Linked DNA regions of Homo sapiens: region 1 is reported to be linked to region 2. The links are microRNA targets in miRTarBase. Many come from high-throughput screens and were not tested one by one. Region 2 holds a microRNA gene; the other region holds the end of a gene's coding sequence.
The links. The annotated mature microRNA hsa-miR-342-3p reads UCUCACACAGAAAUCGCACCCGU and lies in region 2 at 1,346-1,368, opposite strand. An mRNA with a match to its seed (bases 2 to 7 or 8) in the 3' UTR can be bound and repressed. Matches are read on the target gene's strand: a 7mer-m8 pairs with bases 2 to 8, a 7mer-A1 pairs with bases 2 to 7 and ends in A, and an 8mer does both.

Region 1: the mRNA of PRKCSH is a reported target of hsa-miR-342-3p. The part of its 3' UTR that is shown has no 7-base or 8-base seed match.

Annotation. Positions count from the first base shown.
Region 1 is chr19:11,448,875-11,452,133 of GRCh38, reverse strand. It overlaps PRKCSH (PRKCSH beta subunit of glucosidase II), which reads right to left. Exons shown (of 18, transcript NM_001289104.2): 15 at 3,146-3,220; 16 at 2,959-3,058; 17 at 2,706-2,868; 18 at 1,166-1,488. The coding sequence ends at 2,722. It overlaps ELAVL3 (ELAV like RNA binding protein 3), which reads left to right. Exons shown (of 7, transcript NM_001420.4): 7 at 1-808. Among named protein-coding and RNA genes, the nearest start is that of PRKCSH, 15 kb to the right of the region's middle. RefSeq lists an enhancer at 1-22.
Region 2 is chr14:100,107,547-100,111,082 of GRCh38, reverse strand. MIR342 (microRNA 342) reads right to left here and starts at 1,428; the gene lies at 1,330-1,428. The region is part of intron 3 of EVL (Enah/Vasp-like); the gene reads right to left. It overlaps MIR151B (microRNA 151b), which reads left to right and starts at 1,569; the gene lies at 1,569-1,664.

The DNA of each region.
Region 1 (3,259 bases), not on the chromosome of region 2:
ACCAATGGGATTCTTTTTGCTCTTGTCTTGAGAATTTTTTCAGTCCTATTTAGCTGGTGAAATCCCTAGCTTGTTCTTGATACACGAACCTATTTATTCTCGTGGTTTTAAGTCCTCCCTGCCCTCTCTCCTCTCCCCTGCAGCAGGGCAGGGACCCCTCTCCCCTGCTGTCTCTTGGGGCTCTCTCCCCTCCGCCCTCTGCATTCGGGAACACGCACGTCCGCGTGGGAAGCTTGCAGCAGGGCGTCCGAGCAATAAGGGCTGGGTTTGTCCCCCACCCTGGGGGGGGCCAGGCTCCAGAGAGGGGGCACCTCCCCACACACCCCCCCCCCACCGAGGCCTAGGCCCCTGCCACCCCCAAGACTGGGAGGGGACTTCTTTTTCTAAAACACAAAACTCAGCCCAGCCAGGCCCCCTCCCTGGAGGCCAGCCCCTCCCCGCAGGGGGCCAGGCCGGGGCTCCCAGGCGAGGGGGACTTGGGGCTTCCACGTCCCTGGGGGGCAGGGGCCAGGCCAGGGGGGAGGGGGCTCAGCCCCTCCACCCCTCCCTTCATCCTGTTATTTATTCGGAAGGTTTCAAATCACGACAGAGTCCATGTTGGAGGTGATAAAAAACTGTAAAAAAAAAAAAAAAAAAAAAGACAAAACAAAAGACAAAAAAAAAAAAAAAACCCAACAAGAACACTTCGCGTTGCGTTTAGACTATTTATTACCGGGATCACAGGCCTGGCCGCGGTAACAGACTTTTACATGGAATTGTTTAATTATTTGTACTTTTCATGCCAGAAAATAAAAGTTCAGAATCTTAAGGCCTTGGGTGATCTCTGCACCGCTGCGCGGGGAGCACGCAGGAGCAGCCTGTGTAGTAGCGCCCAGGCCCCCGTCCTTCTCTGGGCCTGGGTCTGTCTGCAGCAGGGGCTTTGGCCCCGGGAGGGAACCCTTGGCCTCCACAGAGCACAGATGAGACCCAGGGAAGGTGGGACACGGGCCCGGATGGATGCTCAAGACAGAAATGGTCCAGGGTCCATCCACCTGGTATCTTCAGGAGTGATCCCCAGATGGTGGGGGAGGCCCGGGTGGGATCTGCAGAAAGCTGCGTCCCCTGCGCTCAACCCCTGCCCACACCCCGGTCCACACCCCAGCAAAGCGAGGCAGACACAGACAAGTTTGGGTGGGGGATCACATTTATTGTATTGAGGTCACAGGTCAAGTCATTCACTAGTCCCCACTAGGAGGGGTGGCAGGGACAGGGCTGGGGGTGGTGGGGCGAGTCACCAAGGTGGGGGGCCCAGGGAGGGCAAGCTCCTTTACCCATCTTTGAAGGCTGTTGGGGCCTGGGAATGTGGACCAGCCCCGCCTGGGCCCCAGAGCAGGGCACGAAGCCCCACAAAGGTCCTGCCGCCACAGAGGAGGGCAACAGAGCCACAGGCAGGCCCAGAGGGGCGGGTGGACGGCACTGCAGGGGCTGGCTTCATGCCTTCTTGAGGTTCTGGGGCAAGAGAAAGACCAGATTAGAAAGCTGGGGACAGCTGGACATGGTGATGTTTGCCTGTAGTCCCGGCTGCTTGGGAGGCTGAGGTGGGAGGATCATTTGAGGCCAGGAGTTGACCAGCCTGGAGACCTTGTCTATTTTCTCTTATTATTATTATTTTTTTTTTTTGAGAGTCTCACTCTGTAGCCCAGGCTGGAGAGTGCAGTAGCATGATCTTGGCTCACTCCAACCTCTACCTCCTGGGTTCAAGTGATTCTTGTGCTTCAGCCTCTTGAGCAGCTGGAACTACAGGCACCTACCACCACACCCAGCTAATTTTTTTGTATTTTTAGTAGAGATGGGGTTTTACACCATGTTGGTCAGGCTGGTCTCAACCTCCTGACCTCAAGTGATCCGCCCACCTCAGCCTCCCAAAGTGCTGGGATTACAGATGTGAGCCACGACGCCTGGCCTATTTAGTTTCAAAAGTAAAAAAATCTTTTTTTAAAAAGCAGGGGATGGCCAGACATGGTAGCTCAAGCCTGTAATCCCAGCACTTTGGGAGGCTGAGGAGGGCGGATCACGAGGTCAGGAGATCGAGACCAACCTGGTTAACACAGGGAAACCCCATCTCTACTAAAAATACAAAAAAATTAGCCAGGCGTGGTGGCGGCGCCTGTAGTCCCAATTACTCAGGAGGCTGAGGCAGGAGAATTGCTTGCACCCAGGAGGTGGAGGTTGCAGTGAGCCGAGATCGCGCCATTGCATTCCACATTCCAGCCTCGGCAACAAGAGTGAAACTCCATCCAAAAAAAAAAAGGCAGGAGATGGCCGGGTGTGGTGGCTCATGCCTGTAATCCCAGCACTTTGGGAGGCCAAGGCAGGTGGATCATCTGAGGTCAGGAGTTCGAGACCATCCAGGCCAACATGGTGAAACCCCATCTCTACTAAAAATTAGCCAGGCATGGTGGTGCACACCTGTAATCCCAGCTACTTGGGAGGCTGAGACAAGACAATTGTTTGAACCCGGGAGGTAGAGGTTGCAGTCAGCTGAGGTCGCATCACTGCACTCCAGCCTGGGCCAAAGAGTGAGACTCCACCTCAAAAAAACAAAACAAAAAAGCAGGGAACATGGGGACACAGGTTGATAGAGTGGCCATGTGGGTCCATCTTCCTCAGGGCCCGCCGCCTCCCCTTGCTGGGGCAGGCCGACGAGACTCCACCTCCCCGCCCACCTCTGCGCCCATCCAGCTAGAGCTCGTCATGGTCGTCTTCGGTGGGTGCTTCAGGCGGTGGCTCCGGGCAGGCGGCTGGCGTCATCAGCTCCATGAGGTACTCGCAGCGACTGGGCTCTGTGGTGCTGGTCACCATGGTCTCTTTCCCGCACAGGAGGCGCACCTGGGGATGGGCAGACGGGTGCTCGAGAGGGTTCGGCTGGGCCAGGCCTGGGTCTCCCCGCCCCAGCTCCCCTGCCTTGCAGGCACTCACGGTGGTGGAGCGGTTGGGGCCCTGCCAGCAGCCCGTGCCTTGCTCATACTTCATGGCACTGAACTTGTCGTGGTCGGGGCCAATCCATGAGCCCCAGGTGCTGTGAGAGACACAGGGTGCTGAGGGCTGGGCCGGTGTCGGGGCACCAGGAGGAGGCAGAGGGAAGGGGCCAGCCCAAGCCACTCACCCAAGGCTGGTGGGAGAGCCCCCGAGTTTGGGTTTCTGCGAGACAAGCTTGAAGGGGCAGAGGCGGTAGACGTATCTGTGGAGGACCGGGACATATGGGTTGGGGAACGCAGGG
Region 2 (3,536 bases):
GGGTGGAGCGGGTGCCTGGAGCTAGGGCATGGTACCCTGTCACCTGCCCCCACAATCTGTGCCACTTCTGTCAACCACTGTGCTGACCATGGCAGGCACACCTCAGCTGGCTGCTTCCTGAGCCCTACCAGGAGGCGTCAGGAAGGTGCTGGTGAGGCAAGGCTGGGGAATGAACCACCACCTATCTCAAACCCTGACTGGGCACATGGCGCCTGGGCTGTATCTACAGAAGACTAAAACTCCAAAGGAATCTCGCCATTAGCGTTAGGGAGATAATCCTGGGACTGGTGGAAGGAGGAGACCTCTCTTCTCTAGGATGTAAACTGCAATAAGCCAGCAGCTCTTTTGAGGAGGACAATGGCAGCAGCAGGATGCAGGTGGGATGCTCTGAAATTAGGGGCACCCGTGAGGCATGCACAGTACTACCAATGTGCCGAGGGAGACCCCCAGGGTCAGACAGAGCCTCTTCTCAGATCTTGATTTGAACTTCCAAACCACCAAGATCTGCTGGTGCCGCCGTCCTCCTCCTCATCAGATCCCCCCATTCACCCCCAGCCCTGCAGGGCCCAGGTTCAAGCCCCGCTTCCCTCAGAAAGTGTTCTCTGACCATCAGGATCCAAGAAGCCTGGCTTCCCTCTGTGTCCCAACGTGATGGCTGCTGGCACCACACAGGAGTTGATATTGTTAGTTACCTTTTTTTTTTTTTCCTGAGACAGCGTCTTGCTCTGTTGCCCAGGCTGAAGTGCAGTGGTGTAACCATGGCTCACTGCAGCCTCAGACTCCAGGGCTCAAGCAATTCTGCTACCCCAGCCTCCTGAGTAGCTGGGACCACAGGCACACGCCATCACACTTAGCTAATTTTTAATGCTTTTGTAGAGACAAGGGTCTTGCTATGTTGACCAGGCAGGTCTCGAACTCTCACACTGAAGTGATCCCCTGACCTCCTAAAGTGCTGGGATTACAGGCATGAGCCACTGTGCACGGCTGATATTGTTAGTTACCTTTGCAAATAATTTTTTTAAAAAGAGTAACTTCAAACTGTTATAGTAATTTAGAGGTGACAAAGAATGTTTACAAACATCATCTCATGGTACCCTCACAACAACCCTGTGAGGTGAGTCTGATTCAGCCATTTCACAGATGGCGAAACTGAGTCTTAGGTCAGTGACATGCCCAAGGGCACACTCCTGGCACAGCTGGTACTGGAACCAGATCCGAGTTCACGTCCGAAGTTCCTTCCACAGTATGCACACCTCGGGGCCACAGCAGCTGAAGGCCCTTCCATAGGCTGTGGCTGGAGAAGGCGTGTTCCTCTGTTTGGGGTGGTGATAAGTAGGCCAAGGTGACGGGTGCGATTTCTGTGTGAGACAATTCCATTAACCATGTCCCTCAATCACAGATAGCACCCCTCACCTTGAGCCCAGTTTCACAGGTTGGCCAGCAAGCGGTCTTGGTTCAGGAACTCCATCTTAGTCTGCAGAGAAGGATGCAATGGCAGGAAGTGCCAGGCTATGAGAGGCACACAATATGACATGGGCGCAAGCTGGGAGCTTGTTCAGTCACCAGACACCTCTGATGTGTCAGTCTCTCTTCAGGGCTCCCGAGACACAGAAACAGACACCTGCCCTCGAGGAGCTCACAGTCTAGACAAACAAACCCAGGGTCCAAACAAATGGGACACCAACAGTGTGCGAGGACTGGGAAGGGGTGCCTGAGGTCTTCTGGGGCACTGGGAAGGCTTCACAACAGCAGGGCAAAGGATGAGCAGAAGGTGACCAGGAGTATGGAGAGAACATGCATGAGGGCAGGGGCGGGGCCCCTTTAGACGCAGCCCAGGGAGGACAGACTGAAGAAGGACAAGAGAAGGTGGATGGGTTACAACCCCATTACAACACTTCAGGGGAGAGAGTGTCAGGGGAGAGACGGTGAGAATATGCAGTGCAGGTGGTGAAAATGGGAGCCAGTGAGTCAGAGGGACCAGGGGCTCAGGCCAATGCACAGCCTTCACTGCTGGACATGGTCCCACAGGACCTCGATGCTGAGCTGGGGCCTGGGCTGAGTCAGGAGACAGGGCTCCAGGCACGGCAGCCTCTGGGTCCTGGTGTGTTCCTGCAGCCAGGGATGGATATACTGAGAGCTTATAAGGCAGACGATGTGTGGGTTTTTGGGGTCCAGAGACAAAGAGGCCACTTTCTGAATTTCCAACCTGACTAGATTCATGCAGTGGGAATAGCAGGACAGGCCAAGTGGCAGCTGACTGTTAGGACAGAGGCAAAAATAAAGCCCCGTGGGAGTGCAGGAGGGAGTGCAAAGTCACAGGGAGCGGGGCGGCTGGGAAAGGCTCCATCTGTGGAGCCACATTCTGACAGGACGAGTGAGATTTTAGAAGTGTGGGGAAAAGTGAGAGGGGAAGAAGGGCCAGGGGCACAGGAGAGCCTGAGTAAGAGTGTGACTGACGGTGCGACTTGGGTAGCTGTTGGCATGGAGGCGTACAAAGGCCCTGCCTGATACAACATCTGGAGCCCTGGGGTGAGAACAGGGGTGGGTCAGCAAAGAGACATATCCGGCTTTCAGAAAGTGGCCGCCAGAGGGCAGCTGGGAGCAGGCAGGAGGCCAGGGGCTTGCCGTCCTGTTCCCCTCAGGCAGGGCCATGCTGGGCCTGCTTTCTCTCAGGTGGCACAAGGTGTCAAATGGCCTCGGCAGCCAGGGAGATGAAGACAGTCCAGTACTTCCTTCTCTTTAGGGGAGAAAGAGGTAATTTCCAATGGAAAGAGGTTTACAAGAAGCAAAATTCAGCCCCACCTCCAAGAGCTATGAGGTTTAACAACCTTCCACTCCCCTCCAAAGAGCACATGGAGCTGGGCCTGACTCTTCCCGGGAAGGTCTGCCTGTAAGTCCCTTTCCGGGGCTCTTTCTCAACACTGTGCTGAAGGTGCAGCCCCTGGGCCACTGGGCATCAATGAAGGACATAAGAGGTTGAAAAACTGGGAAAACATTTATTATCCAGCACCAGGAGCTTCATATTTTGAAATATACCAATGATGTTATTACACGCAAACCAAGTAGGAAAAGGACATACATTATGCTCCAAGAGCCAAAGAGAACAAGCACTTCATCCTGTGTTTTAATTCGCCCGGATTCCCACTAAGCTATGGGGTTTTCCTTTTTCTTTTCTTCAGAGTCCCACTGTATAAAGTCGATGAAGAACTACTCTGGTTGCATCAGGGCGAGGACCCTGGTATACCTTGGTGGACCCCTGGAACTCCTCAAAATATCCAGTTTGAAATCCACTGCATTCAACCCCCAAACTGCAAATAAACTTGCCTTTGACCACACATGCTTCTGTCCCACCCCCACCCAATCCAGCAGCAGGGGCACGTCTGACAAGATTTCATTAGTGAGAACCAAATGCGAAGAAACAGTCAAAATCCAGTTACTCAACCCTCTCCTCACCAGCACTGCTTTCCATGCACCTCGGCCCTCTTCCTAAAGCCTGGTCCTTTTCTGGTCCTTGGCCTGGAAAAAGTGATCTTTCA